Homo sapiens: one gene and its partners. The protein of the gene in region 4 purifies or fractionates together with the protein of the main gene of each other region. This does not show direct contact. Each region holds a gene or a part of one and is shown on either strand. Other genes may lie near its edges.

Region 1 (7,423 bases), on a different chromosome or scaffold from region 4:
AAAACATTTTGCATCTCTAGCTTAAGAGGCGGCACATCTTGAAAAATCGACTCCTAGGACAAGTATCTCCTTAGATTAAAAAAATATATATATATATATGTAATAAAAACTCTAAAAAGTAAGTTTCCATAGCTCATTTGTGAATAGCCATGACCCATACATAGGATTCTCAGGCTAAGACCAACATTCAATTCTCACTCTCATCCTAAAGGCCACTTGGCCTTTTTGGATTCTTTCTTCCTTGCAAGGTAGCAACTAAATAACTGAACAGAAGTGGAATTAGCCAATAGAATAAATGGCTGAATTCCTTCTCTATGTATGCTTCACCAATACTATTACCTGCAATTTAGTGCCCAACGGACAGAAGCAATCTGTGAGAAACATGGCAAAAGCTCAGTTGCTGGATATGCTAAACCCAGTTTCACTATCACTGAACTTTACCAGTAAGGATCATCACTGGCAGAAAGTTTTATTCAACAGCTTAAAAAAAAATTACCTGTACTTGTCTTGTACTTTCTGCTTTATATCCTGCAGAGAATCTTGGGAAATATCTCGTTCAAGGTAGCCCGAGAGCACCTCTGTGGCATTCTCTAGATCTGCTTGGTTATTCTGTAAGAAGAATGAAAGTAAATTTTGGCTTCAAAATAAAGCTAAAAGATAAACCATTTTCACTGTTTTGTTGACTACAGACTGCTCTCAACACTCATTCTGTAACTTTCATAGGTGGTTTAACTGCACCTGTAAAGCTCTATGGGCTTTCATCTCTAATAACTTGTTTGTTCTTTTCCAGAACAATTTTTTAAATGTTAAAAGAACGAAAGATTTCACCCATTACTTTTGGAAGAATACTGAAGACCATTTGAAAGGATTTAAAATGTCTTTTGGAATCTTCTCGTTCTGAGAGCTGCTCTTTGCTGAAAACTCAAAGGTAAATGAGAAAAAATAGAAACCTATTATTGCTTACATCTGGCTATACTTATTTCTTATAAGAAAACACTGTATGGAAGATTCAAATTGTATCATCCTTTACCACTATGGCTAGTTTTGTACCTGTTACCCAACTGAAGTCCCATCTGCTAGTCAGTCTTATTGTCTAGTCATATACAGATATCAATGTTTTATGCATCAATTTTAAATGAACATCTTTACTTGAGAAAACCTTTACTGCTAAAAGCTGGCTTTTTAGTCATTATTTCTCCACTAAAGATAACCACCACATTAACTTCTAATATTGCAGGGTTAGTTTAGCCTGAATAAAGGCTTTTATTGAGAACTTATGATGTTCCAGGTGCCGTATAGCAATTAACACAAATTGTCTCACATAAAACACAAATTGTCTCACTTAAACCTCATAACAACCTAGAAAGGTACTATCCTCACTTTAAAATGGACAAATAAGAGGTTAAGGAATTTGCTCCAAATCAACAGAGCTAAAACATAATGAAGTAAAGATTAAAATCTAGGGCTGACTCCAGAACCTGCATACCTAATCACTAGCTGGCTAAACCACATCGATCTGAATATAATTTAGGACAAGAAATAGAAATTTCTTGTATCTTTGTAATAAATACATTCGTCTACCTACATGTTCTGAACAAACAAGAACCCTGAAAACTCTGTATCTTATATATGAAAGATCAGGTAGACCTATGATACAAGGTGGGCTTTTTCCTCACCCAGAACTACTCCTACCTCAAAGATAATGGACTGGTTATTCTTTTTGAGGTAGAAAGCGAAGACATAAGTGTACATGAGTGTGGCACGACACTGGCAGAGGACATCAACTGCCTTCTTCAGGAACTGCACCTCAATCCAGGACATGTTGTGCTGCTGCATCTCCTCCATTTTCTGTTTCACCTGAGCATATAGTTTGTGCTCAAAGCGCAGGCTCTGCATGTGGTTCATATAGCGATTACAGTAGAACAGGTACCTCTGCAGGGCTGCCCTAGATCGCTGTCCCATTAAGAAAAATTGGGTGATATAATTATAACACATAAACTGTACATAAAAGCTGATTATCAAATTAAAACCATAATGAAGTCTCACTTCACACCTGTTAGAATGGTTTTTATCAAAAAGATGAAAGATAAGTCTTGGCAAAGATAAAGAAAGAAGGAGACTCTTGATACACTGTTGATGGGAATGTAAATTAGTATAGCCATTATGGAAAATGGTATGGGGAGGTTCCTTAAAAAACTGAAAACAAAACCACCACAGAATCCAGCAATCCCACTACTGTGTATATATGAAAAGGAATTGAAATCAGTATGTCAAAGGTATCTCTGTACTCTCACATTCACTACAGCATTATTCACAATAGCCAAGACATGGAATCCATGTAAAGTGTCCATCAATGGATGAACACAGAAAGAAAACGTCATGTATGTACACACACACACGAGTACTCAGCCTCAAAAAAGGAATTCTGTTGTGACAACATGGATGAACCTGGAGGACATTACACTAAGTGAAATAAGCCAGGCACAGAAAAGAAATACTACATGATCTCGCTTATATGTAGAAACTAAAAAAGTTGAACTCACAGACATACAGAGTATAATGACGGTTACCAGAGGCTTGCGGGGATAGAGGGGTAGGAAGGGAGGGAATGGGGAGTTGGTGACCAAAGAGTACAAAGTTTCAGATAGACTGGATGAGTAAGTTTTGAGATTTATTGCACAACAGGGTGAATATAGTCAATAATAATATATATTTCAAAATAAGTATCATTTCAAATGTCTCACCATAAAAATGTTAAGGCAAGGCAATACAACAATTAGTTTGATTTAATCATTGCATTGTTTACATATTTCAAAACATTCCACTGTACTCCATAAATGTGTATAATTATGATTTGTCCATTAAAAATATTAATAATTTAAAAAGCTGATTTACTGATGAAACAGTACTGTGATCTAGGCTAAAATCAGGAATAGACATCTACTGCTACTTTTGTTATTTAATACTCTTGAAAAATGTCCTATTAATTGTACTTTCCAATACAGTAGCCACAAGCCACACCTGACTACTTAAAATTCAATTTAAGAAACTAAAAATTCAGTTCCTCATCGCTCAATAGTCACATGTGCTTAGTGACTACCAAATTAGACACTGGTGATAAAGAACATTTACATCATTACAAAAATGTTCTACTGGATGGCACTGTTCTACAGTATGCCACAAGATGTAAAACAAGCAAAAAGCAGAGATATTTTTAAGTAGAAAACTACAGTGGCAACTACATACCATGTAACTCCTGATATAATACAATAGAAAGTATAATCAATTAAGTATTCTGGGCTCCCCCCCCAACCACTGAATCTGAATTTGATCAAGTTTCTTGAATTAATCACCAGTGCAGAAAATGCAGGGATAGAAGAACCTATTAAATGACACCATGCAGTTGCAACCAGCAAAATCCATAATGTGGGAAACTCTACAGGACAACACGATCTAGTTTCTTCAACAAAGAAAAAAAAGCAAGGAGGGGGGAAGAGAAGGAACAACAGGTAGAGGAGACTCAAGAGATATCAATTAAATCCAATTTGTGGACCTATGTGGATCCCAATTTGAACCAACTATAAAAGAAAATTTAAGATAGGCTGGGTGTGGTGGCTCATGCCTGTAATCCTAGCACTTTGGGAGGCTGAGGCGGGTGGATTGCCTGAGCTCAGGAGTTTGAGCCAGCCTGGGCAACACAGTGAAACCCTGTATCTACTAAAATACAAAAAATTAGCTGGGCGTGGTGGCATGTGCCTGTAATCCCATCTACTTGGGAGGCTGAGGCAGGAGAATTGCCGAGTTGCACCACTGCACTCCAGCCTTGGGGAGAGAACGAGACTCTACCTCTGAAAAAAAAAAACAAAACACCAAAAAACAAAAAAAAGCAAAATTTAAGATAATTGGGGATATTTGAACAATAGATAGTTGATACCAACAGAGTATTGCTTTAAAACATATACAGTTGACCCTTGAACAACACAGGATTAAACTGTAAGTCTACTTTATATGTGGATTTTTTTCAATAAATATATTGAAATATTTTTTGGAGGTTTGCCAACAATTTGAAAACACTTGCGGACAAACCAAAATTAAGAAAAAGAGTTGTCATGAATGCATAAGACATATGTAGCCTATCTTATGATTTACTACGATAAAATATACATAAATCTATTAATAAAAAGTTGAGATTTATCAAAACTTATGCACACAAACTCTTACAGACCGTATATGGTACCATTCACATTGAGAGAAATGTAAACAAACGTAAAGATGCACACGGTACTCTGGAAGGGACTGTCAATGCTATCGAAGAGAACCCCCACAGAACATCATGGAAGTCTGGAAGGAGAGCACCACTGAAGATGTCATCGTTGTTATAGAAAAAACCATGGCATCATCAAGACTGAAACAATAAACTCCTGGTAGAGAAAACTGTGTCCAGATGTTGCGCGTGACTTCGCAGTATCTACAACAGAGCCCATCAAGGAAATCACGAAAGAGACTGTGGATATGGCAAAGAAAACGTGGAAGGTGAAGGGTTAGCTAACAGACACCACACCAGAGGAATTAAAAGACCACTTGATGGAGATGAGCTGCTTCCAAACCAGTGCCAGATGATGAGGAAGAAGACACTAAAGAAGCAGTGCCAGAAAATAAATTGACATTAGACAATTTGGCAGAAGGGTTCTGATTACTTAAGACTGCTTTGGACTTCCTTTATGAATGGACCCTTCTATTATACCAGCACTGAAACTAAAGCAAATGGAAAGAGGATTGTTACTATACAGAAACATTTTTAGAGAAATGAAAATGCAAAACGGTTCGTAAGGTTTTCCTGTAAAGTTACACCAAGTGTGCCTGCATCTCCTGAATCCCATTCGACTTCCTCTACCTCTGCCACCTGAGATATAGCAAAACCAAGCCCTCCTGTATTTTCTTTCCTCCTCAGCCTACTCAACTTGAAGACCTTTATGATGATCCGTTTTTTTGTTTGTTTGTTTTTTGTTTTGAGATGGAGTCTCACTCTGTCGCACAGGCTAGAGTGCAATGGTGCGATCTCGGCTCTCCACGACCTCCACCTCCAGGGTTCAAGTGATTCTCCTGCCTTATCTTCCCAAGTAGCTCGGATTACAGGCGCCTGCTACCACGCCCAGCTAATTTTTGTATTTTTAGTAGAGATAGGGTTTCACCATGTTGGCCAGGCTGGTCTCAAACTCCCAACCTCAGGCAATCTGCCCACCTCAGCTTCCCAAAGTGCTGAGATTACAGGCGTGAGCCACTGGGCCCGGCTGATCCACTTCTACTTAATAAAAAGTAAACACATTTTCTCTTCTTCACAATTTTTTAAAATAACTTTTTTCCTAGCATACTTCATTGTTAAGAACACAGTATATGCCAGGCACAGTGAGTGGCTCACGCCTGTAATCCCAGCATTATGGGAGGCTGAGGTGGGTGGATCACCTGAGGTCAGGAGTTCAAGACCAGCCTGACCAACATGATGAAATCCCGTCTCTACTAAAAATACAAAAAAATTAGCCAGGCATGGTGGCGCATGTCTGTAATCCCAACTACTTGGGAGGCTGAGGCAGGAGAATCGCTTGAATTCGGGAGGTGGAGGTTGCAGGGAGCTGAGACCTGCCACTGGCACTCCAGCCTGAGTAACAAGAGCAAACTCCGTCTCAAAAAAAGAAAAAAAAAAAAGCACACAGTATAATAAAACATGTAACATACAAAATATGTGTTAATTGACTATGTTATCGGTAAGGCTTCTGGTCATCAGTAGGCTATTAAAACAGGTAAGTTTTGGGAAAATCAAAAGTGGTATGTGGATTTTCCATTGCGGAGGTAGGGCGGGTTAGTGTCCCTAACCCCTGAATTGTTCAAGAGTCAACTGTAATGGTATTACAGTTATGTAAAGAGAGTCTGTCTTTAGAGATATGTAAAGTATATTGTTATCAAAGCAACAATGTATCTAGTTTAGATTTGTTTTGTATTATTACATTATAATATATAATTATTCATATGAGGCCTCTACCATTATACCATAAATCTCTAGAGGGAATGGACTTTTAAAAAGATAAAGTATTTCCAATACCTGATTTGCAGAAAACCATTAATAAATGCTTACTAAATGCAACCACTATCAAAGGGTTTTTTTTTTTTTTTTTTTTTTTTTGAGACAGAGTCTTGCTCTGTCACCCAGGCTGGAGTGCAGTGGCACAATCTCGGCTCACCACAAGCTCCACCTCCCGGGTTCATGCCATTCTCCTGCCTCAGCCTCTGGAGTAGGTGGGACTACAGGTGCCCGCCACCACGCCCAGCTAATTTTTTTGTATTTTTAGTAGAGATGGGGTTTCACTGTGTTAGCCAGGATGGTCTCCATCTCCTGACCTTGTGATCCGCCCGCCTCGGCCTCCCAAAGTGCTGGGATTACAGGCATGAGCCACCGCGCCCGGCCCCTATCAAAGGGGTTCCTAACACACGTATGTTCTTTTCCTTTATCCTTACCTCCTCTTTCTCTCCCCATGTTTTAAAGCCTACATAACAGATACTACTTGGCCCTATGGTTGGTCCCTTGCTTAGAAATACTAATTCTGAGCCACATAATTAGCTAACCACATGATCCAGCATTATACAACGAAACACTTCAAAAAACCAACACAAGTTGGGCGCGGTGGTGCACACCTCAAGCTGCCTCTAGTTCCAGCTAATGCAGAGGTTGAGGCAGGAGGACCACTTGGGCCCAGGAGTTCAAGGCTACAGTGAGCTATGATCATGCCACTGCGAGACCCTCATCTCAATGAAAAAACAACAAAACCACAGCCATGTTATTTCAAGAGTCAGGTAAGTATCAAACCAATGCTTATGAACAGGAAAATTATGCCAATCTGAAAATATGTGGAAAATCTGCTTGGCATTTTATCTTCCCCTAAAGTACTAATATTTCCAAGCCTGTCAAGTTCCCCAAATGAAATGAAAACCCTCCCTTACCATATTGACATGTATGATGTTATGGGACTTGACTTAATCTAAGAATTCTGAAACTGCTTCTCACTAAAATTCAACATGAAAAAAGAACACCCATACCATCACTGCTAATAAGACTTTTTTTTTTTTTTTTTTTTTTTTTGGAGACAGGGTCTTGCTCTGTTGCTTGAGCTAGAGTGCAGTGGCACAACCATGGCTCACTGAAGTCTTCCCAGGCTCAAGTGATCCTCCCACCTCAGCCAGCGTGCACTACCATACCTGGCTAATTTTTAATAAATTTTTTGTAGAGACAGGGTCTCAGTTGTTGCCCAGTCTGATCTCAAACTCCCGCACTCAATCCTCTCGCCTCAGCATCCCAAAGTGCTAGGATTGCAGGCGTGAGCCACTGAGCCTGATCAAGACAAATTCTCCAATCAAATGCCAGAATCTGGAA
Region 2 (7,423 bases), on a different chromosome or scaffold from region 4:
GACTATTTACAGGTGTAAGATCACTACTGATCAGCACAGGAGTTTTCACCTGCTCCATTTCTGACCTGGGCTGGTACACCCCTCCTTAGGCAACCTGGTGGTCCGCCACTCCCAGGAGGTTACCATATTGATGATGAACTTAGTTTGGACACCTGATCAGCATAGCACACTACAGCCTAGAACTCCTGGGCTCAAGGAATCTTCTTGCCTCAGCCTCTAGAGTAGCTGGGACCATAGGCATGTGCCACCATGCCTGGAGAATCTTGTTTATCTTGCACTAAGTTGCGATACATGAAGAGCACTACCTTAAGCATTTGGTCCATCCATCAGAAGGTTATACTGTGTACCTAAAGAGCATAATAATTGGGCACACATGTTTAAACCTATGCCTCCCTCTATAATTCACGATGTCTGGGTCTTCTGAGATGGGCAGAAAGAAAACAAGTTCATTTTATTATAAACTTGAATAAAATGTAATGAAAATAAGTAAGTTATCTGGGTGGAAGAGTTAAAACACACATATATTTAATCACACACACTGCCAAAATAAAAAGCACACTTCTATAATATAACATATTGCAGTAGTTCTCAGAGTGGCCCCTAAAGCAGCAACAGCAGCATCACCCAGGAACTTGGAAGAAACGTGAAATCTTGGGCTCCAGCAAAATGTGTTTTAACAAGCCCTCCAGGACACTGTGATATGTTAAAGTTTGAGAGCTACTAATTGATCTGTTCGGAATACTTCTGTTTGTAGATAATTGAGATGCAATTACATAAAATATTTGAAAGTCTGCAATATAACTAGAAATAAAGAGACTGGTGTTGTTGAAAAGTATCTGTATTTTCTAAGTAGAAGCAAACCATAATAATAGAAATCTTAAGGTAATGACAGATAATCAAAAAATTCTTTCAAGAATATATAATTTCAAGAGAATACATAACTGTGAATGTTCCTCTGGAGCTGATGCTAATAGAATTTAACATTTAATAGTTAAAGAAGTTAATTTTGCTCAAAGAAGAAAACAAAGGCCGGGCGCGGTGGCTCACGCCTGTAATCCCAGCACTTCGGGAGGCCGAGGCGGGTGGATCACCTGAGGTCAGGAGTTTGAGACCAGCCTGACCAATGTGATGAAACCCTGTCTCTACTAAAAATACAAAAATTAGCCGGGCGTGGTGGCATGCGCCTGTAATCCCAGCTACTCAGGAGGCTGAGACAGGAGAATTGCTTGAACCTGGGAGGCAGAGGTTGCAATGAGCCCAGATCGCGCCATTGCACTCTAGCCTGGGCAACAAAAGTGAAACTCCATCTCAAAATAAAAAAAAAGAAAACAAAAATTATATACCTGGGCACCGAATCACGAGCATTTTGAATTTAGTGAGATTAGGTCAGTAAATAGAAAACAATGTCCAAAAAAAGAATACACGCACTTTGTAACCAAACTTAGTAAGACTAAACCATTCAATAAATGGGGATTAGACATTTGGAGGAATTTTTCTACAAGTAGCATAGCTTAAAATAGGATCTGCAGATTTGTTTTTGATAAAATTACAGTACTTCTATAAATAGCAGGGTTCTTAACTCCTAAGTGTATTTTTGGCTAGGGGTTGGGGGACATGTGAAGAGAGTAACTTGTGAACCCTCTGAAATTATATGCTAAATTATATGGGCAGCTGCATTTTCCAGGGATAACCCATAGCTTGTCCTTACATTTTCAAAGCAGTTTGTGACCCAAATGCAAGCTAAAAAAACAATACCACATGGTAAAAGGAAATTTCCACTTTGAAGAGTACGTTTCCTAACATAGGGTAAATCATAATTCTAGAACTAGTAACCTCATGAAGTAGATGCAATAAAAACTTAATAACAAAGAGAAAAGTGAAAACATCTGGGCAGTGAGAATACCCATGTTCACTGCAGCACTATCAGGGGAAGAGGAGTCTCTAAGACTAATTATACTATTTCCTGTTTTTAAATGGAATTCCTCTCTTAAGTAAGAAAGATTTGATAGGGAAAGAAAAAAGGATCTTTTTTTTTTTTTTGGTTCTGTTTCTTTGCTTGCCAAATAGCTATATGATAAACGAGTTGACTCTCTAGGGAGATCCCACCAGGAAGAGAGCATTCTGTGCAGATGCCCAGTGTACCAAATTATGACACCCATTGCAACTACCTGGTTTATAACACACACATTTCTTGTCCACATACTGTTCTCCCTGCCTAGGGTGGCTTCACCACTCCTCTCTGCTTCAGTAACTTCTATCCTTCAAGGCCAGCTTAAGTTCTGCCTCCTCCACTTATCCTTCTGATCATATCTACCTAGGCGCTTCTTCTTCTTAGCTATGACAGAAGATTTTTTCTCTAATCTTGTTTGGTCGTTAGGAATATAAGAGGACACACTTCCTTTTATGCTGATGTCAAAACTCCCTCATCTGATCTTTAAAATCTGTGGCAGCTCACATAGTCCCCCATTATAAGGTGCTTGAAGTTCAACTCTACTGCAATTCCAGTTACAGAGCAATTCAACCAAAGAATTAGAATCCAATAGGTCACTGAATATGCATCAGGCTTACCATAAATGGAAATGCTATTTATGAAGTGAGCTCATAAACTCACCAAATCTGACAGTCTCTGAGAAAACAGCAGTATATATAGTTGACTTAGTGACTCAGTATTTTATCTTTAACTATTAGACATGTAAGATCCTTTATCAGCTGCATACAACTTGAAAAACCATGACATAATAGATTTCTAGTAAAAGACATGGCTAGACCAAAACCTCTAAGAAAACACACACACTGCACATTTTGTTAAGTGACCTTCTGTAGGAATTATGGCTGGTACCCTGCCCTTTGCCCCTTTATGCCCAGCAGACTTCTCAGGAAAGCATATAAACTACCTGAATACTTGATGACTGAAGCAGCTGTTGCTGCCATGGCTTTGAAGCAAGGGTGGATTTAACTACATTGCATATGCTACAAGGGGGAAGCTGGCAAAAATAGCATGTAAAGGACAACACCCAGGTACCTGTGGATGAAACTGGCCTTGCCAAAAATATAGTAAATACATAATTACTCTCACAGAAGGAGGGCAGCTAAGAAAGAGAAATGAAGACTACAGACAATGCTGAATGGAAAACAAAGATCCTCTATCCCAACAGATCAAAGTGAATCTCCTAGCAATTTTAATTTCACCACTGACAACCTCAAAGCAAGTTGAAGAAAGTTCTACTATTCTGGAATCAAAATAAAGAGTGAATATGAATCTACAAATAGGCCATTATTGATTGCAAAATAGAAACCCTAAAGGTCACAAAGTCAGTTGTGCAGTACAGTAACTGAGGTTAATGACGAACAGCCCATAATGAAAATGTTTACAATTTCTAGAAATCTGGTCCACAAACAATCTACCCTATGACTTGTGATTACACAAATGTTAAGAATACTTTCCCAGCCAGGTGCCGTAGCTCATGCCTATAATCCCAGCACTTTGGGAGGCCGAGGGGGACGGATCACCTGAGGTCAGGAGTTTGAGACCAGCCTGGCCAACATGGCAAAACCCCGTCTCTACTAAAAATACAACAATAAGCCAGGTATGGTTGCATGCGCCTGCAGTTCCAGCTACTCAGGAAGCTGAGGCAGGAGAATCGCTTGAACCTGGTAGGCAGAGGTTGCAGTGAGCCGAGATCGTGCCATTGCACTCCAGCCTGGGTGACAGAGCTAAACTCTGTCTTTAAAAAAAAAAAAAAAAGTGAGACACCAACTGTGGACTATTATTACTTTATGAAACCACAACCTGAGATGTCAACACTAAAATGGCTGGCCGGCCCTAATTCTTTCTTACTAGAATGCAAGGTGAGAGGCAGAACAGAGTGAGTAAAAATGTAAGTAGAATAAACCAACTTTTAAGACATATCCCAGCAGGCACAGGAACAAACGATGTCTCTGGTCCCAAAGTGTTGTTCAGTCCTCTAATTTACATGTCAATTTTTCCCACCTCAGGTACCTGTGCAGTCTGGTCACATAGAACATGGACGTCATAGCCCAAAAGCTTGAAGAGGGTGACTAGAGTACTGTGGTCCACATCCCCTCCAGAGCGAAATTCCAGTTCTTTCTCTCCAGTGAAGTGCACATTGCTCAACACCAGTGCTAGGCCACGAGGCCGAGACTGCAACCTATATGCCTGTGGAGGAGAGGCCAGTTAGACCATGAGCGTCTTGATAACAGATGATTCCTCGGCTAGATTAGACATTTCAAGAAAACAAAGACATCGTATTTTTCTTCTTAACCTCCAGCAGGTAAAAATAGACAAATGCTCACAGAAGGCATTTAACCAGTAACAACTTTCTGACTAATAAGGCAGAAAGGAAATGTACATGCAAACTAAGTTCAGGTTCCCAGGAAGGGTGTCTAATTTCCCAACTCTCTTCCTCTTGTCATTATGCAAAAACTCACCAGCTGGAAGTGTGTTTGATAAAATTCAGGAGTGCAAGGCTTCACCTGAAGGCAGACAGGACCATCTTTATTGTCTAGGGAGTGTTCCACAGTATCTGTGGTATAGACAGAAAACCAAAAAACTAGTATATAACTTAACCATCAATCTTAATATGTCATTGTAACTTCAGACATCTCTTGCAACTGGGTTGTGATAAATATTGGTCTCACTCACTACCCAAACCTGTAAGCTTCATGAGGGCAGAGACTCTTAGTTTTAGCTCACTAAAGGATTCTCTGCACATAGCCTGCATGAAGCATATGCTCAACTGGCTGAATGACCGAATGGGCTAGCTGATAAAAGCCTCGTTCCAATCACTAGGATGCTCCATCAGCAGGCTGGTGGCCCCAAATGTAGTCTTTTCTTATTCAGCTTTTTAGAGGCCAATTGAGCATGAACTTCCTGCCCATACATGCTACTCAAAGGCCCAATTATCACAAAAACTGTTATCTGGGGTGGAAGGGAAATGGACCAACTATTAATAACACCTTGCCTGGGCCGGGCGCAGTGACTCATGCCTGTAATCCCAACACTTTGGGAGGCCGAGGCAGGCAGATCACGAGGTCAGGAGATGGTGAAACCCCATCTCTTACTAAAAACACAAAAAATTAGCTGGGTATGGTGGCACGCACCTGTAATCCTAGCTACTCAGGAGGCTGAGGCAGGAGAATCACTTGAACCCAGGAGGCAGAGTTTGCAGTGAGCCGAGACTGCACCATTGCACTACAGCCTGGACGACAGAGCAAGACTCCATCACAAGAAAAAAAAAAAACAAAAAACCACAAACTCCTGCATAAACTGTCCTACTAGCCCTTAACAAATTTACTGACAACTGTTCCCAATATAAACTATGTCTCAGCTGGGCATGGTGGCTTACGCCTATAATCCCAGCACTTTGGGAGGCCAAGGCGGAAGGATCATTTGAGGCCAGAAGTTTGACACCAGCCTGGGTAACAAAGTGAGACTCCTTCTCTACAAAAAATTTAAAAATGAGCTAGGTGTGGTGGCATGCACCTGTAATCCCAGGTACTTGGGAGGCTGAGGCAGGAGGAGCCCTTCAACCCAGGAGTTCAACGCTGCAGTGAGCTATGGTGGTGTCACTGCATTCCAGCCTGGGTGACAGAACAAGACCCTATTTCTGAAAAAAAACACAACAAAAAAAAAAAAAAACAAAAAAAAGGGCTCATGTTAGGACAAAGCCAGATACCAGACAAGAAAGGGGAAGTCAATCTGGGACACCCCCCTCCTTTTTATTTTATTTTATTTTATTTTTTGAGACTGAGTCTCACTCTGTTGGCAAGGCTGGAGTGCGGTGGCACCGTGTTGGCTCACTGCAACCTCCGTCTCCTGGGTTCTAGCAATTCTCCTGCCCCAGCTTCCCGAGTAGCTGGGATTACAGGCACCCACCACCATGCCCAGCTAGTTTTTATATTTTTAGTAGAGACGGGGTTTCACCATGTTGGCCAGGCTGGTCTCGAACTCCTGACCTCAGGTGATCCACCCGCCTTGGCCCCGCAAAGTGCTGGGATTATAGGCGTAAGCCGTGGCACCTGGCCTGGGACCCCTTTTAGTCCATCAATTCTCACCTGTCGACAGGCGGAGCTTCTTGTAAAGGGGACAGGACTCACACACCGGAAAAGGGAGACTCAAGTCGTAGTCACAGCTCAACTGTAAGAAATCAAAACTCATGATGACAGACCTTAGGGAAGTGGTCCGGTCCAAATACAACAAAATCTAGTCTCCCTCACTCTGACTTACAAATTCCTTTCCAGTCAAACTAACCCTTCCCAACACCCCATATTACTAAAGCTTCATACCGGTGGGAGTACATGCTGAAGCCCAGAAAGGGTGGTGAGCAACATATCCTCCAGGTGGCCTTGCTTGGTCTCCCTCAGTGCTTCACAGAAGGCATCAAAAGCTTGGGGACCCCTCTTAGGCAGCAAGTTGAGGAGTTCCACATTCTGGCTGAAACTGCCCACTTTGGCCTAAGACACAAGAATAAAACATGAAATCATATTTACTTCTCTAGCTATAATTCTATTTCTCCACATGAGCTTCCTAGTAGTGTCCTCATCCAAGAATTCTTTTTACAGGAAAAGTGTATGTATGGGTGAAGTCCTTTCTGTTATTCTTGAGTTATATATCATTTCTCTCAAATGCTCTACGGTAGAAGGGCATTTCCATTTCTTTAGAAAGGTACAACATCCAGCTGGGTGTGGTGGCTCACACCTGTAATCCCAGCACTTTGGGAGGCCGAGGCAGGTGGATCATGAGGTCAGGAGATCGACACCCTCCTGGCTAACACAGTGAAACCCTGTCTCTACTAAAAATCCAAAAAATTAGCCAGGCATGGTGGCACCTGCCTGTAGTCCCAGCTACTTGGGAGGCTGAGGCAGGAGAATCACTTGAACCTGGGAGGCAGAGGCTGCAGTGAGCCAAGATCGCGCCATTGTACTCCAGCCTGGGAGACAGAGACTCTGTCTCAAAAAAAAAAAAAAAAAAAAGGAAGAAAGATACGACACCCTTTCCATATTTTGTCATGCTCTATTCCCACCCCATGATCAATTTATCTTCTCTCTTTTGCCTCCAGATACCTGGATGAGCTCCCTCATTTCCAAGGTGATGATGTCCTTCTCCAGAAGATGTTCTAACAATTCGCTCAACAACAGCTGTTTGGCTAGCACCACTCGGTTCTTTTTTAGAGTTTCCTGATGATGAGGATGCATGCCACACACTCCCAATATCCTACAGATAAACGGTAGAAGGAAAGGCTGTCAAGTCACAATTTGACACAGAAGAGTGGAGTGGAAGAGGCATGAATAGGAAGAACAAAAAGAATAAGACTTACAATAACCAAGATTATGCATATTTCTTAAATCTGGTTAAAGCAAAGATGTACTAAGCAGGAACACATTGATCATAAGAAAATAATGT
Region 3 (7,423 bases), on a different chromosome or scaffold from region 4:
CCAAAAGGCACTGTGTGCCCTGGGCTGGGAGTACACAGTGAGTGCTACAGGGGCTCAGAGAGGGCCAGTGACCTTCCAAGGACACACAGCTAGTAACCTGCGAACCACAACTACCTAATCCAAAGTCCATGTCCTTTCCCCTTCCTCACCAGGGGAAGCTCCAATGTTGGGGACAGGATCTTTCAGGAGAGGAGCCAAAAGGATTCGAGTGCAAATGCACTCTTCCCTACTGGATCTGGTGTGAGGCTGAGCCTCTGCTCCAGCTGGGAAAGCAGCCCACCCCGAGGACCCTGAGGGAATACTGCCAGTATCCTCGGGCTTCTGTCCACCCAGCAAGAGAAGAAGGGAAAAAGAATGCCCATGGACACTGAAAAGGACATTTTCTTGGCAATGGGACTGCATTTCCATCAGGGTCCCTCAACTATACACTAAAGCCCCCTCTCTTCCTGCTCCAGACCCTCAACTTCAGAACTGATTTGTGGCTTTATCTTTGTCAATATGTTAGCAGTCTGAGAAGCCCGGAACCAGGAACTGGGTCCCCTTTAAAGCCCGAGTTTTGCAGAAAACCACATAGCTGCCTCCATACCAGGCTCCGCAAGGACTCCTCAAACCACAAAGGTGTGTTTTTGGCAACACAGTTTTCTCCTTTTACCATGGATGAAAGAGACAATAAGCTAGAGGCTTTCTGTAAAACGCCAGGCTTTCCCTGCCATGGGCCTCTCTGCTCCCTATCTCTCCCGTCCTCCTGACGCTGAGGCTGCCAGGCACTTACTTCCGTAAACACGTCCAGTGCAGCCCCGGCACACTGGCCAGACTGCAGGGCCCGGAGCAGGGCGCCTTCGTCCACGATCCCTCCACGGGCACAGTTCACCACACGCACCCCCTTCTTGCACTGGGCAAAGGTGTTGTCATTCAGCAAGCCTGGAAGAAAGCGAAGCATCTTCCTGCTGGGGCAGCACCAGGATCCCCACGCTCATCCCTGGCTTCCAGAGGTCTTCCCTTTCCTTGAGCCAGCTCTTTCCCAGAGCCTCTCTCCTGCTGGACGGCAGCCTCTTTGCTCTCATCTCTTCCTCCTCAGATGCTCTGGGGCAGGAGTCCCTGTTATGGATCTGGGCCAGACTCAGTTTAGAAACATCTTAGAAATTCTTGAGATATTACTGTTTCAAGTGGGTCTGGGAATCAGAAAGCCCTGCAGGGGCTGCAGAAAGCATCCATGGGGGTCACTGGTTGTCCCTGTGCCCAGCTTACCTAGACCCCAAGCACTTCTAGCTGGCTCACCCTCCCCTATCCAACGTAGGGGTGTCTAACAAAACACCAGCCTCTGCAGGACCCAGGTGGACCTCTCCCCACAGCTGGTTACCACTGTCTGGGGAAGGCCCAGATGGAGGGCCCATTTGTTAACTGGTCTGTGGCTTCTGTGACCAATCCACAATGTAAGGACACACCTACCTGTCGTGGAGGGCAGGAGAGGAGTGTGCACAGTGATGAAATCACAGAGAGGCCAGATCTCCTCCAGGGGCAGCTGCTGAACACCAAAGGAGGCCGAGACCTCTGGGGAAATGATGGGGTCATACCCTATAGTCTGGTTGGAAGCAAGAGAGAGGGAGGAAGTGTCATTCTTAATTATTAGTATTGTTATTATTAAGAATGGCAAACATTTTTTGAGCATTTACCATATACTAACTACCATGCTCAGCTTAATTAATTCTCCAGTTAATTTACCATACACTAAGTACCATGTTCCACATACTAAGTACTATTTACCATATACTAAGTACCATGATCAGCTTAATTAATTCTCATGACCACACAATGATGCTGGGACTGTTCTTGTCTGCTTGAGAGCTGAGGGAAGCAGGGCTTCCACAATGAGGAGGGGCACAGCCAGAGCTCAAAAGAAGGTGCGTCTGCCTCCATGCTGTGATCACACACAGATGCAACAATAGCTCATATAGGTCTGGACAAGGTGGAGCTTGGAAGTCCTTAGAAAGCAGGGAGTCCTGAGGGAGGGAGGGCAGTCATGTAGGGAGCGGACAGCCAGGAAAGGGAGAAGGAGAAATGGCAGCTGCAGCTGGAGGGTCCAGTCCAGGAAACAGGTGCATCAGGTACTAAAACAGAGTGAGCAGAAGCGAAGGAGGAGGACAACAGGGGTACAAGGCAGGACCCAGAGTGGGAGCAAGACTGCATGCCCTCTAAATCAGGAAGCCTGACCTGTGTCCTCCCCCAGTCACTGCCCACTGTGTGGAAAGGTACAGGTCAGTTCCCCTGGACCTGGGTCCTCAACCCTAAATAAAGGAGCTGGGCAGATGATTGCAGCCATCTCTCACTCTCACATTCAATCACTGGGAATTATTTGAAGAGAAATCCCCCTTAACCCCGAGACAGAATGTAAAGAGTGAGCCCAGGATTAGACAAAAACAAAGAATACACAGCATAGTACTTTAACAGCGGTTGTCTCTGGGTAGTGGAATTATTTTTCTCCTTTTTGCTTTCCTGTGCTTTCAAGTTTTCTACTACATTATTCATAAATTACTTTTGAAATTAGGGATACAGTATAGATACTTTAGAATATAATGGGAAAGATGGGTGCCATTGCTCACACCTATAATCCCAGCACTTTGGGAGGCTGAGGCAGGAGGATCATTTGACCCCAGGAGTCAGAGACTAGCTGGAGAAACATAGTCAGACCCCCCCCCCTACAAAAAATTTAAAAAACTAGCCAAGTTTGGTGGCATGCACCTGTGCCACCCAGAAGGCTGAGGCAGGAGGATCACTTGGGCCTAGGAGGTTGAGGCTGCAGTGAGCCAAGATTGTGCCACTGCACTCCAGCCTGGGTGACAGAACAAGATGTCTCAGAAAAAAAAAAAAAAATAAAACAAAATAAAAAAGAACGTAATAGGAAAGAGGACTTCAAATTCAGTAATTCTAGGGCAGAAGCTAAAATGGTTATGATTAAGGTGAAGCCTCTGGATCCCTTTTTTCATCATTAGCCTTGTGGAATAAGGAAAGCCAAGTGGCCCCACACCAACCATCAGGCAGGTTTTGGGGAAAGATGCTGCCTCTCCCACGCCCTATAAGAACCTCCAGCTCAGAACGCTGGTGGTCTTTTTCAGACACTGCTGCTCCCCTCGGCTGTAACCTACTCATTTCTGGTGGGGAGGAGAAAGTGTCCAGGCGAGGAGATGGGATCCCTGCCATCGTTGTCACAAGTCTTCTTCGTCTGCTGGCCCTGAGGCCGGCCAGAACAATGGCCCTGTTCATCTCTAATCCAGATGTATTTTTTTTTCTCATATGGAGTGGGGAGAGGAAGGGAACACCAATAGAGATCACAAGGTCCAGCCTGACTGACGTCTACTCCATGCTCAGGAGCCAAGAACAACCTGGGGGCTGGCAGGAGGAAGGACCCTGCAGGCTGAACCTGGCCCCCTCCACAGACAGGTGACTGGGGCTGGAGGGAGGGGGTTGGGGAGAGGAGCAGGTGAGCATCTTCCTCAGGGGTGAGCGAAGCACTGACTCAGCTTCCTTCTTTCACAGAGAGTATCTCATTTATCTGCAGATGACTGCAGGGAAGGAATCTGGCTGAGCAAACCTCTGTTCTCATTTTCCATTTGAGATAACCAGGGCAGAGAAGAGCTGAACTCAGCTGGGGGTTGGGGTTCCGACACTAGGAGACAACACTGAGGGGATGGAAAGGGTGACAACAGGCCCAGGACACACGTGCCTGTCAGGGTCCTGGTGTGTCCTGGAAAGGGTCAGATGTCCTAATATACAGACATTGGAGCACCTCTGGGTACCCACCATTCAAAGACTACTCCCGGAGAGAAGCCTTGGGGAGAAACATGAAGGGGTTCCCTCACCTCAATCCCAGCCCCAGGGCAGACTCCTGATGTTGAGGCAACAGAGGAAGCCTCACTTTCTAAGCAGGACTCCAGGGCAGCTGGTGGCTCCTACCTGCCTGAGGTCACAGAAGACAGCCCTGAGAGGCTGGTATGCTGGCTGCAGGGCCTTGCTGGCTCAGCAGAGCAAAGAGGAGAGCAAGGAGGCCTCCCAGTTAAAGAGGCTCTGAAGAAGAACCCTCACCGTCACGTGCTCTCTCTGCCCCACAGCTGAATTTTTAGTTTAGCATTGGAACTCTCCCTACCACGGCAATGAAATCTTAAACAGAGACCCAAATATAAAAATAGGTCAATTCAAAGCTGCAGAGGTAAAGGCTCAATGTGCCACCACCTGCTGTCTCCCTGGGCCCCTCCTTGCTCCCACCTGTGTCCCTAAGGCACCTTGCCAGAACCCGAGGCTCTTGAGTTTGAGAATCACTGCTCTGGGCAGTAAGCATTCCAGGTAACACACTGAGATAGGAGCTGCCCATCCTGGAGAGTATCTGTCTTTGGAATAGCTAAGCATACCGGCATGGCACAGGGACTGTTTACCTAAAATGGATCATGAATAAAGTTAAGTGGTACTGGGCAAAGAATGCCAGCCTGGAAGGCTGAGCCGAAATTCACCAGTTCATAGTTGCATTATCTTCAGCATATCATAGAACCTTCCTGGGCCTCAGTTTCCTTATCTGTAAACCTGGGATAATAATTCTGACCCTGCAGAGTCATTTCAAGCACAGGAACCGACACAGTAGACCTCAGCAAACATTAGCTGGACCTGAAAAAATCGGTGATAACTGGTGCCTCAGGTTCAACATCCAACCCTCTGGGCTAAAGTTGGATTCATCACAACGCTGGCTACAAAGAAACTGTTAAGAGATGCTTGTCTGTTCCCTCAAGGAAAACCTTGATCATAAAGCACAAGGCTCGCTTCTTGATTGGTTTGTGCCTCTTAACACATTCTAAGGAACACACCAGCATGAATGAGCTGAGTCTCTGAGGTCACGACCTGTCATTCAGCAACACTATTGAGAAAAAGTCTCTCGCAGACACAACAGTATAGAGCGTTAAGACCTGTATGACTCAGACCACAGGTAGGCTGCAGGTCAGGCCACAGTGTGAGGAATGTCACCTCCCTTGCTCCGGAAGCCATACTTCTTTTAATGCTGCCAAATGTCAGGTTACCTTTTCTATCAGCTATGCCACTGACAACCACACTGCTCTTTTGTAAACCAAAGCCCTGCTCCCCCAGAAAAGCTTTTGACAAATGCTTCTACATCTAAAACTTGTCTAGCTGCTTTTTGGACCCACAAGTAGGGTGCAGAAATGTATTCTAGCTAAATTTCCTGTGAGGGTGCCCAACCATTCTAGCCTTCATATGTCTTTTTGGACCTGATTCTGCACCCTTAAGTATTAACTACCTCTCCTTGCTTCCTGCCATCCACAAATGACACATGGTTCAGGCTGTTGATGAGAATGGTGGGCAAGGTGGAGCACTATTGCATACTATCTCCCTCCAAACTGAGGTGGCCCATTCCACAACAGCACCAAGCACTAATCCCTTCAATAGCACCAAGCTCAAGGGGCTCCATCCGAACCCCGAGGGAATCATGAAAGATGTCTTACCAAAGTCCATATCTATACACAATCTAAATACCCATCATTGAGAGAATGGCCAAATAAAAAGCAATTTATCTGCACAATAAAATTCCACACAACTGTTTAAAAATATGCTAGATTTAGTTGTTCTGAGATAAACATGTTTTTTTCTTAACATCACAAACAATATTCTATTGTTTGCAGCCAAAGAATCCATCCACAGGCATGGAACTGTATGCATTCTGTGCAAATGCATAGAAAAGTCTCGGATGACATGCTAAACTGATGTTTACCGTGAGGAGACTAGGGTTCAGATGGTAATCAAGTATAGCCTTGTCCAAGTTTTAATTTATATGAGAATGCATTCCTTTATTACATGATTAAAACATAACTTTAAATAGTCCGGGTATCTGACATCTAGGGATTTCCATACTCTACCAGTTTAATAATGGTTTCCAAAAAGAGGATGAGGCTAGTATGAAATAACTTGTGTTTAATAAACACTTATCCTCATTTCCTGTCTGGGTGCTTATACATCTCTTTCACAATATGTTCAAGAATCTTCCTTTCCCTTTAGAAAATCTTGTTCTCCAAGACCGGTAGAACTGATGAGCTCTCCGCCCTAAGACAAAATTCATCCAGACTCAAAAGTATGATAATGACGTGGTTGAGGTAAGCAGCTGAGCACGAGAAGAGGCCACTTAGACTCTCCGGAATGATGAGGTCCAGGCAGCTCCGGAGGGGCTGAGGTGGGAGACGGAATGATCCAAGCCATGTTTCAGGGGTTTACAAAGAGCATGTTCTGGAAGCAAGACAGTTAAGAATGACCCTCCAGAGACATCTGGACAGAAGAAATGCAAAGTGAAGGCACTGGCACCCTCCACACCATGCTGGGAATGGGAATAAAACATTCAGTGGGTGACCTGCTCTGAGGCACAGATTAACACTGAAATGAGCAGGCCGTAGACATCTCTTTCAATCAAACACATGCACGAGAGGTGTCAGCCATTTCCTGACACTGATGCTCAAGGTCCCAGGTACCCATGCACCTCTTGGAAGCATCCCAGGGTAGAGAGTTGGGCAGTGCCAGATGGACAGACAAGCTTACCTAGCACCTCAATCATTCAGGAATGAGGTGGGGCTTTTCATCTGGTTGAAGTCGCTGCCGAAGTCTCCATGATGAAGAATATTGCCAGGAATATTGATGTGTAGTGGTGCCACGGAGAAGGAAGCCTGGGGAAGGGGAGTCATGGGGAAGAGGACCCCCTGGGGAAGGGGGCAGGAGCCTTGGAACGGCCACTGGTCTGGAGCCTGTCTCCCAGTTACTGCTTCATCAATGAAATGCTCACCTATTTGGCTATGAGTGCTCTTAGTTTTACTTAACTCCTGACCTCTGCCTTTTATATCAAAATTCTCCATGGACTAAACCTTGACCCTTGATCCCTTACAAAAGAGGATGGAGGAGGGAGTGCTCTTTGTGGCTTATGGCATCCCACCATCCCTGCACAGAGGGCAAGGCTGTGGTTTGTTTACATGATCAATGATCCTGCTGGGCTACATCTGCCTCTCTCAGGAGTCCAGGGATCAAGAATACACCTGGCCCTTCTCAGTGCAGAGGCTTAGGAAAGATATCTGGCTGACTTAAATAAATAAGATGGGGAGTGGAGGCAGGAGGGAGAGGATAATATTCAATGTGTACAATGGGATGCTCACCAGGCTCTAGGCTACTGTCCATTTGCTATGAGTCCTTAGGCATAAGCTTACAAATTCTAGATGTCAATGTAAAATTAAGGGTTAATCTATTAAGATCCCTTCTAACTCTAAGAAGGTAGGAGGGATGTAGAAAAAGGGAGAGTTCCATAGCAGCTCTATGTAAACTTTTCTAGATTTGACATGATCTGGTTGTCAAAACTGATCTCCTAATGTTTAAAGACTTCCTGGCTGCAGTT
Region 4 (7,423 bases):
CGGAATTAACAATATTTTCTACCTCAGAGAGTCGTTGCAAGCATTAAATAAACTGATCTGCTTAGCACGTAAGCAGTACCCAATAAATAGGAACAAAGGCCTATTGTCTCTTGCTGTTAGCCCAACCCCAGTGCCCATGTGTGATAAATGAATGAAATGACCGAATTGAGTGACAGCCTGGCAGCATCTGGAAGCGAAGGTGCCTGGGTGACGGGGGATGGAGGTGAGGGTTGAGAAGAGCTGTAAAGGAAGCGGGGCAGTTTTGCACCCCACGTTGTGCAGCTGCAGTTTCCTAAACAGCCGGTGATCCACGCTGTGGTCGAGACCCGGCCGCCACACCCCGCAAAAAGTCCACTTGGTGAGAGCTGAGAACGAGGGTTCCAGTCTTTATTATGCGGGCGTTCAGTTTCTAGCTCCCGGGCCGTGGTCCGCGTCCAGCTTCCAGAGCCGCCGCGGGATACCAGCCGCCACTGGCTCGGCGTTCCACTAGCACCGGCGCCCCGCCCAGCCCCGGGTCCGGAGGCGGGGCCGCGGAGCGTCCGGCGCAGGCGCAGGCCGGTATGGGACGGGGCGGGGCTCAGAGGAAGGGGTTGGTGCCGGTCTGCGGGGGCGGGGGCCGCGGCCCGGCTGAGCTCGGCGTGGGCAGCAGCGGCTGCGGTGCGAAGGCTCCGGCCTGCGGGAAGACGCTAACCGAGGCGGGGAGGGTCAAGCCAGCTGGCACGCTGCTGAGCGGGAGGGGCAGAGAGGCGCTGTAGGTCATGGAGCCCAGGGGCGCCCCCACAGGCCCGCCTGCCAGGCCCAGCGCCGGCGAGCCGGTGCGCATCTGGTTTAGCGTCGGCCTGCCCGGCTCGCCCGCGCCGAACGGGTTGGTGGGGGACGGAGCGCTGAGACCTGCAGAACGAGAGTGGCTTTGAGTGACCCGGGGTTCAGAGCCCTACACCGGGAGGTCGTGGAAGTTGGGAAGAAGAGTGGGCTCCTCCGGCGGAGGCTAGGCTCTGAAAGCAGGAGCCCCTGGGTTGAGGGACAAGGGCATATCTTACCTGTCAGGAAGGGGTTCCGGGTCTTTGCAACCTGGGGTGCCTTGACCAACGAGTCAAGGTTGACCAAGGAGGAAGCTGAGGGACCCAGGAAGGACTCGGGAGTCCGGCAAGCTCGGGCCTCTTTGCTTGGCTGGGTTAGTGCTTCCCCTAGTATGCCCAGGTCCAGGGCATCTGGCTCCTTCGTGCCATTTTGCTTGGAACTGGGGCTGGGGTCTCCAAACAGGTCCAGCTCTGGAATAGAAATGCTAGAGCTAATTGGTGGGGAAAGGGATTGGCGCCCGACGTGGGAGGAAGAGGACAGAGGCTGCTCGGGGTGGGCCCCTCATTCCCCAGAGCCTCACCATCCCCTTGCCCTGCTCACCCACAGGGCTGCTGGGCTTCCCAGAGGGCAGGGCCTGCTCCAGCCCCTCCTTGGTCTCTGTGGATTCTGGAGGTTTGGCAAATGGGTCAAAGGTCGAGGCACCACCTCGGAAGAGAGAGAGGAAGAGGAGATGGGTTGACAAAAAGGGCAGGTGTTGGTCTGACCCCTTTCCAGAGAAGCTGTCCTCCTAACACAAACAGTATCTGCTGCCCCTTGGCCCTGCCTGGAAGTCCCCCAGCTCCTCACTCACACTCTCTGGCCCTCTTCTTACCAGGTGTGTCGGAGGTCTCCAGGGAGGCTCCCCAAGGGTCAGCCCCAGTGCTGGGGAGTTTGTGGTGGGGAGAGTTCAGGGCCCAGGGGTCTGTGGTGGGGGGCCCAGCAGGCAGCACTGGGGTCCTGCCCCAGGGCTCAGAGGAGGAGAGCATGGGAGTCAGATCCCAGGGCTGGCTTCGGGACAGGACGGTTCCTGAGGGGATCGGAGACCAGGGGTCTGCAGAAGGCCCCCAGGAGGATCCACTGGCCTCTGTGTTCGGCCTAAAACCTGAAATGGGAACAGCATAGACATGATCCCAGGCCCACCCTTATCCCTCGCCCAGGGCCCTTCCCAGTTACCCAGCCCAAGTTGGGAGGCAGAAGATCCATGTCACAGATGGCCTGCAGCCTCAGGACCACCCAGCAGGCTGGAGCCCCTATTTGACAAGTGACCCCAGGAACTGGGACCTGCAGGTGTGGGCGACTCAGGCCACCTTCCCAGGCGTGCTGAGCAAGTGAGTGCAGCGAGAGAACATTTTGCTGCGTTTCCTAGGAGCTGGGCCCTTCAGACATTCTCCATAGCCCTCACTACGAAAGCCTGTCCCACAGGCGGCGGAGGCTCAAGGTGGTGAGTGACTTGCCCGGTGACACTCAGATTTTGGGAGGAGGTGCTTGGCCCAGCAAGTGGCTGGGAAGGAGGAGGCTCTTGGGCCAGCCTGGAAGTCTCTTGCAGCCCTGCATGCCCACCTGGGATGTCCCATGGGTCAGCAGAGCAGTGTGTGGAGGGCGGGGCCAGGGCAGGTACGAAGATGTCAGCCAAGTCCAGGATGGAGGACTGTGGAGGGGAGAGGCAGCCGCGGCTCAGAAGTGGGCGGGGCCTGGAGGGAGGGCAGGCCCTGACCTGTCAGGCTAATGCCAGTTCATTCTCTTTATTCATTCCACAGATACCTATTCATGATCCCTCACCTCTGCACAGTGCTTTACAGTTTATAATGTTTCTTCATCCACAGAGTACCTGATTTTCATAACAACCCTGTGAGGTAGGTAGGGCAGATGATGTACCCATTTTATGGATGAGCCAGCCAGCGCACAGAGGGTGGAATGGGTTTGCCTGAAGTCACACAGCCAGGGAGAGGCAGAGCTGGGATAGAATCCAGGCCAGCAGAAAGGGGCAGGAAGGCCAAAGGCAGATGTTTTTCAACCAGCCTACCTCCCTAGGTCAGTGTCCAAGAGAAACTGGCCACAGTGAACATGGACGGAAAGGAGACCACAGCACCCGGGCGTGGCATGGACAGCTTTGGAGGGCAGCCTTGCACTCAGCAGCTGCCCACTCCCCATGCGGAGAAAATATGTCCATGAGCCCGAGGTGTTTTCAGCACCATGTGCTTAGGCCAACCCTAGTCTTGATTGACAGTATCACATAATCCTAGCATGTCAGAGCTGGAACTATCCAATAAGCACACTGTGCAGAAGGGGAAACTGAGGCCATGACAGTGACATGCCCCAAGTCATAGAGTAAGTGGCAGCAAATCCAGAACCCGAATCCGGGGGTCTCCAATCAGGAACCTTTTGCATCCCACTTTGCTGTTAACTCAGTCACCAGCCCATGCAATGTGGGACTAGGGCTGCTACACCCCCACCCCTATTTCATCGAATAAACACATCAGTGCTTACTATATGCCAGGCACTGCTCTGCTCTCTCTTTACAAATACTCAGTCCATCTCTTAGGCCCTGTCCATCCCAAGCACCGCAGCCCACTCCCTACCTGGCTGGTTTTTAGCTTCTCCTCCTCCTTTCTCTCTTCTCTCTCAGGCTCTCTGTCCCGCTGATGGTGGACCACGGCCCCTGCACCATTGGCCATGGGGGAGCCATCACCCTGCCAGGACCTCACCTCCTGCAGAAGGCACAGAAAGAGTTAGGAGCATGAGCAGCTCAGGCGGGAATCCGGGGACCTGTGCACCAGAGGCTGGAGTCGAGAGAGTGCAGGGTGGGAGGCAGCTGAGAGGTTAGGAGCAGCAGGGCCACCGGGTACAGCGGGAGGAGGCTGTTAGTGCCCTGAAGCACCTCCACCAGCAGCAGCAGCAGCACCGGCAGCCCAGCGGGCTCGGCCCACTACCTTCTCGTGCTCCTGCCGGCTCAGGCGCAGAGCCAGCTGCAGCTGCAGGTCCTCGTCCCTGTGGGAGGCTGGGGGGACAGGCTGCGGAGGAAGAGAGGGGTAAACTTGGCCCTGTACCCCCACCTTGGGACCAGAAGGGCAGTATAGGCCTGCCTGGGTCATGGGGATGGAGACACTAATGCCCACCCTCAGTGTGCATGGGCCATTTGCCGCTCAGTCAGCAGGGTGGGCGTGGCCTTCTCCCTGCCTGCATCTGAAATGCAGTTTAAAGGTCAGGAAGACTGATCTTTCGCTTCTGAATCCTCTGAGAGTTCCTCAGGCCCTCCTGTGTGAGGCCCAGCTGCTTCCTGCCTGGTCTTCCTGGATCCACAGAGGTAATGGCAAAGATGATGATATCGGGGGCCTGTCCTTGTCTCCCCAAAAGGATAGCTGGTGGGCGGGGGTGGGAAGCATATCCCAGTGTCTCCTAGGAATATGTCTGAGCACACTCACCCACTCCACCATGAGGTGGTAGCAGGCACCCCAAGACATAGCATGTGCCCCTAATTGTACACTCGCCACCCTTTCCAGGCCCAGTGGAGAGGACTGGAGGCAGGGAGGCAGTCCCTGCCTGCGACAAACCGACAGAGATAATGGGTCTTGTGCTGTCCTTGGGCACAGGACTGGGGCTTTGGGTGACAGAGCCTGAGTCAAGGCCAAGGGGCTCCCAGGCACTCTCTCCCCCTAGCCCATCCCCTCCCCACCGCAGTGGGGCTGCATGGCCTCACCTTCTCTGCCTCCTCACGGCTCATGGCGAGGGCCAGCTGCAGCTGCAGTTCCTCTTCCCCTGACGTCTGAGGCCGGGCCTGCTCCAGGTCGGAGGTATAGCGGGGTGACGAAGAGGAGGCTGCAATGACCATCATGTCTCTGTGACCACACGATTACCCATCGGCTCCCACACCCCTCTGCCTGCCAGGAAGCTGAGGCTCAAGAGAACTGAGAGGAGGGGAACAACGGCCGTTGAGGCCCCCGTGGGCCAAGCAGTGTGCCAGGCACTCTGTAAGTTCCCCATCCCAACCCATCCCGGATGGAGGGGCGGCTCCAGTCCCTCCTTAGCAGATGCACAGGCGGCACTTAGGGCCCCTGACCAGGTTCCTGAAGCAGGACTTGAACCCAGGTGCCCTGACTCCAGCTCTTGGACTTCCAGATGGACCCTGTCCTGGCTTGGGGGCAAGGGAGGTGCAAGGATAGGAGGTTCTAGTCCAACGAGGTCACAACCTCAAAGCCCTCAGCAAACTGTCAAGGGCTTTATGGAAGGCGGGCCATTCTGAGTATTCCTCAGATCCTGGAAGCCCCCATGACTGGGGGCAGGAGAGTCAGGGACTGTCTAGCCGCTGCCCTCAGGTAGGGGGATGAAGGGGAATGCCATGTGTCTGGGTGCAGGGTAGAGGACGTTCCTGAACCTGGTCTCATTTCATTCTCAGATCAAACAATGGAGGTAGGTGAGCTTATCCCCACTGTACAGATGAGGAAACTGAGGTTCAGAGAACTGGTTGCCCAGGTCACACAGCTTGGAGGAAGCAGAATATAGAATGCTATCTGACTCCAAACCCATGCTTCCACTATCGCGCCATCCTATCAGGCAGCTAACGAATGATAATGAATCTATAACAACGTTATTATCTGAGCTAACTTGTTGAGCACCTCCTATGTGCCGGGTGTTGCGCCTTGCGTGTTACATTCCTTATGTCTGAATCTTCATAACACCCCTCGGAGGTAGGTATTATGAACCATGGCTTGGATTGCAGAGCCAGGAATGGAAGTCGGGCCACCTCCCCATCCCAGCCACACACCGGGGCTTACTCACAGTTGTAGGAGGACGGGGAGCCCCGGGAGCGGCTGTAGTCCTCGCCGTAGCGGCGGCTGAAGCCCAGCTGCCCACTGCCAATGCCGATGCCCTCCAGTGCCATGCGCTCCTTGGTCTTGAGGGCGTGGGTTCGCTCCTGCCGCAGCCGCTCCTCATCCTTGAGCAGGGCCATCACCTGCTTGACCTTCTCGCGCACGTTGACGCCCTGGTCCTTGCCGTCGCGGTCGATGTACTGGAAGTCCTTGAGTGTCTGGATGGTGTAGAGGTTCTCGCGGCACTGGTGGGCCACCCGCTCGGAGCCCGTCTTGAGCAGGTAGTCCAGCAATGTTAGAGCCTTGTACACGTGCCGCCAGTTCTTGCCGCTGTCATTGAGCCGCCGCCACAGCATGCCCATGACTTCGGTGAAGGCCACTGTGTTGAAGGTCAGGTCAGCGATCTCGGACATGAGCGAACTAGGGGGGCCCCAGGGGTCATTGCTGGTGGCCTCGCGCACCTTGATTTCTGCCTCGGAGTAGTTGTGCACGATGTTCTTCACCTGGCGCCGGAGTGCGGAGGTCGTCATGGCTGGAGACTTGGAGGTGGGTGGCCCTCGCCCCCGCCGGAGGTGGAGGGCTGAGGGCCACTGTGGCGAGGTCACAGTCTTGAAGGATGGGCTGCCGTGTTAGCAGAGCAGCTGCATCCTTGGGTTCCACATGGGGCTGAGGAAGAGAGGGCCAGGAACTCAGGGGCAGAGGCCTACCTCATGGGTCACTCAGCCACTGACCAACTAAATGAGGCCTGGCCAGAGTGTCCCTGCCTCCAGGGACAGCCTTCAGCGGCACACGTTCTTATTTCACTTACAATTCAGCAGGCACTTGGAGCTTTGCATGCTCATCTATCTATCTTCACAGCCACACCCCAAAGATGCTATTATCATTACCTCCATCCACAGATGGGAAAGGTGGGGCTCAGAGTATTAAATGGGCCCGGTGCAGTGGCTCACGCCTGTAATTCCAGGACTTCAGGAGGCCAAGGCAAGAGGATCACTTGAGGCCAGTAGTTGGAGGCTGCAGTGAGCCATGGTCAGGCCACTGGGCAACAGAGCGAGACCCTGTAATATTAAGTGACTTGTCCGAGATCACAGAGCTGCTGCATGGGGAACCAAGATGACCCCAGGAAGCCCCACCTAAGAGTGCATGGCCTCATGGGGGAACGCTAACAGGATTCCAGGAATGCCCGCTTGCCTTGCTTCTGCTCGGCCACTGCCTCTGTTTCTGCTGAGATCTAGCTTAAGACCTATCCTTCCTAGCTCCTCAGCTCACTTTTCTCATATTGTTAATTTTTGTAGTTTGATGCATTCAACACCTATTTCCCGGAGGCCTTTTCTGAGCCAGGCACCATGCCAGGCACAGAACACACGCCTTGGTCCACCCACGTTCAGTTGAGAGGGTACAGAAAATCACAGTCCAGTGTGGGAGTGCAGAGCCGCACAGGAAGACCCAAGCCAGGAAAATCAGGGGAGACTTCCTAGAGGAGGTGGTGACAGAGCTGAGATCCAAGATCACAAGGGAAGAGTAAGGAGGAGTGAACCAGCAAGTCAGGGGAGGGCGGCTCAGAAGAAATGCTATGACCTGGGCCAGAAGGCAAGAGAGCAAGTATCGTTTGAGGAAGACTGCCCCTCAGAGTTCTGGCCACTGCCAACACTCCTGCATGCCACCCCCACGTACACATGGAAGTGTTGAGGCCAGAGAGGGGATGGGACCTGCCTGCATCATATGGCACGTAAGTGGCAGAGCCTGGACTACCATCCAGGACTCCAGAAGACTAA

The links.
Region 1: the proteins of EPN3 (region 4) and ARIH1 purify together in Homo sapiens (affinity purification with mass spectrometry; 3 studies listed by BioGRID and IntAct, with this or other methods). This does not show direct contact.
Region 2: the proteins of EPN3 (region 4) and CASP2 purify together in Homo sapiens (affinity purification with mass spectrometry; 3 studies listed by BioGRID and IntAct, with this or other methods). This does not show direct contact.
Region 3: the proteins of EPN3 (region 4) and PHGDH purify together in Homo sapiens (affinity purification with mass spectrometry; 3 studies listed by BioGRID and IntAct, with this or other methods). This does not show direct contact.

The regions. Positions count from the first base shown.
Region 1 is NC_000015.10:72,575,261-72,582,683, reverse strand, and holds part of ARIH1 (E3 ubiquitin-protein ligase ARIH1), read right to left. Parts: intron 1,954-7,423; coding exon 1,693-1,953; intron 610-1,692; coding exon 497-609; intron 1-496. UniProt on the Homo sapiens protein: E3 ubiquitin-protein ligase, which catalyzes ubiquitination of target proteins together with ubiquitin-conjugating enzyme E2 UBE2L3.
Region 2 is NC_000007.14:143,291,351-143,298,773, reverse strand, and holds part of CASP2 (caspase-2 isoform 1 preproprotein), read right to left. Parts: intron 7,235-7,423; coding exon 7,084-7,234; intron 6,475-7,083; coding exon 6,307-6,474; intron 6,158-6,306; coding exon 6,076-6,157; intron 4,545-6,075; coding exon 4,450-4,544; intron 4,178-4,449; coding exon 4,001-4,177; intron 258-4,000; exon of another isoform or gene 1-257. UniProt on the Homo sapiens protein: Is a regulator of the cascade of caspases responsible for apoptosis execution. Might function by either activating some proteins required for cell death or inactivating proteins necessary for cell survival.
Region 3 is NC_000001.11:119,728,793-119,736,215, reverse strand, and holds part of PHGDH (D-3-phosphoglycerate dehydrogenase), read right to left. Parts: exon of another isoform or gene 6,583-7,423; intron 6,277-6,582; exon of another isoform or gene 5,817-6,276; intron 1,583-5,816; coding exon 1,450-1,582; intron 922-1,449; coding exon 773-921; intron 1-772. UniProt on the Homo sapiens protein: Catalyzes the reversible oxidation of 3-phospho-D-glycerate to 3-phosphonooxypyruvate, the first step of the phosphorylated L-serine biosynthesis pathway.
Region 4 is NC_000017.11:50,535,312-50,542,734, reverse strand, and holds part of EPN3 (epsin-3), read right to left. Parts: intron 6,315-7,423; 5' UTR 6,179-6,314; coding exon 5,617-6,178; intron 5,442-5,616; exon of another isoform or gene 5,234-5,441; intron 4,809-5,233; exon of another isoform or gene 4,657-4,808; coding exon 4,538-4,656; intron 4,145-4,537; exon of another isoform or gene 3,981-4,144; intron 3,852-3,980; coding exon 3,771-3,851; intron 3,549-3,770; coding exon 3,420-3,548; intron 2,489-3,419; coding exon 2,401-2,488; intron 1,943-2,400; coding exon 1,673-1,942; intron 1,507-1,672; coding exon 1,402-1,506; intron 1,272-1,401; coding exon 1,041-1,271; intron 892-1,040; coding exon 578-891; 3' UTR 1-577.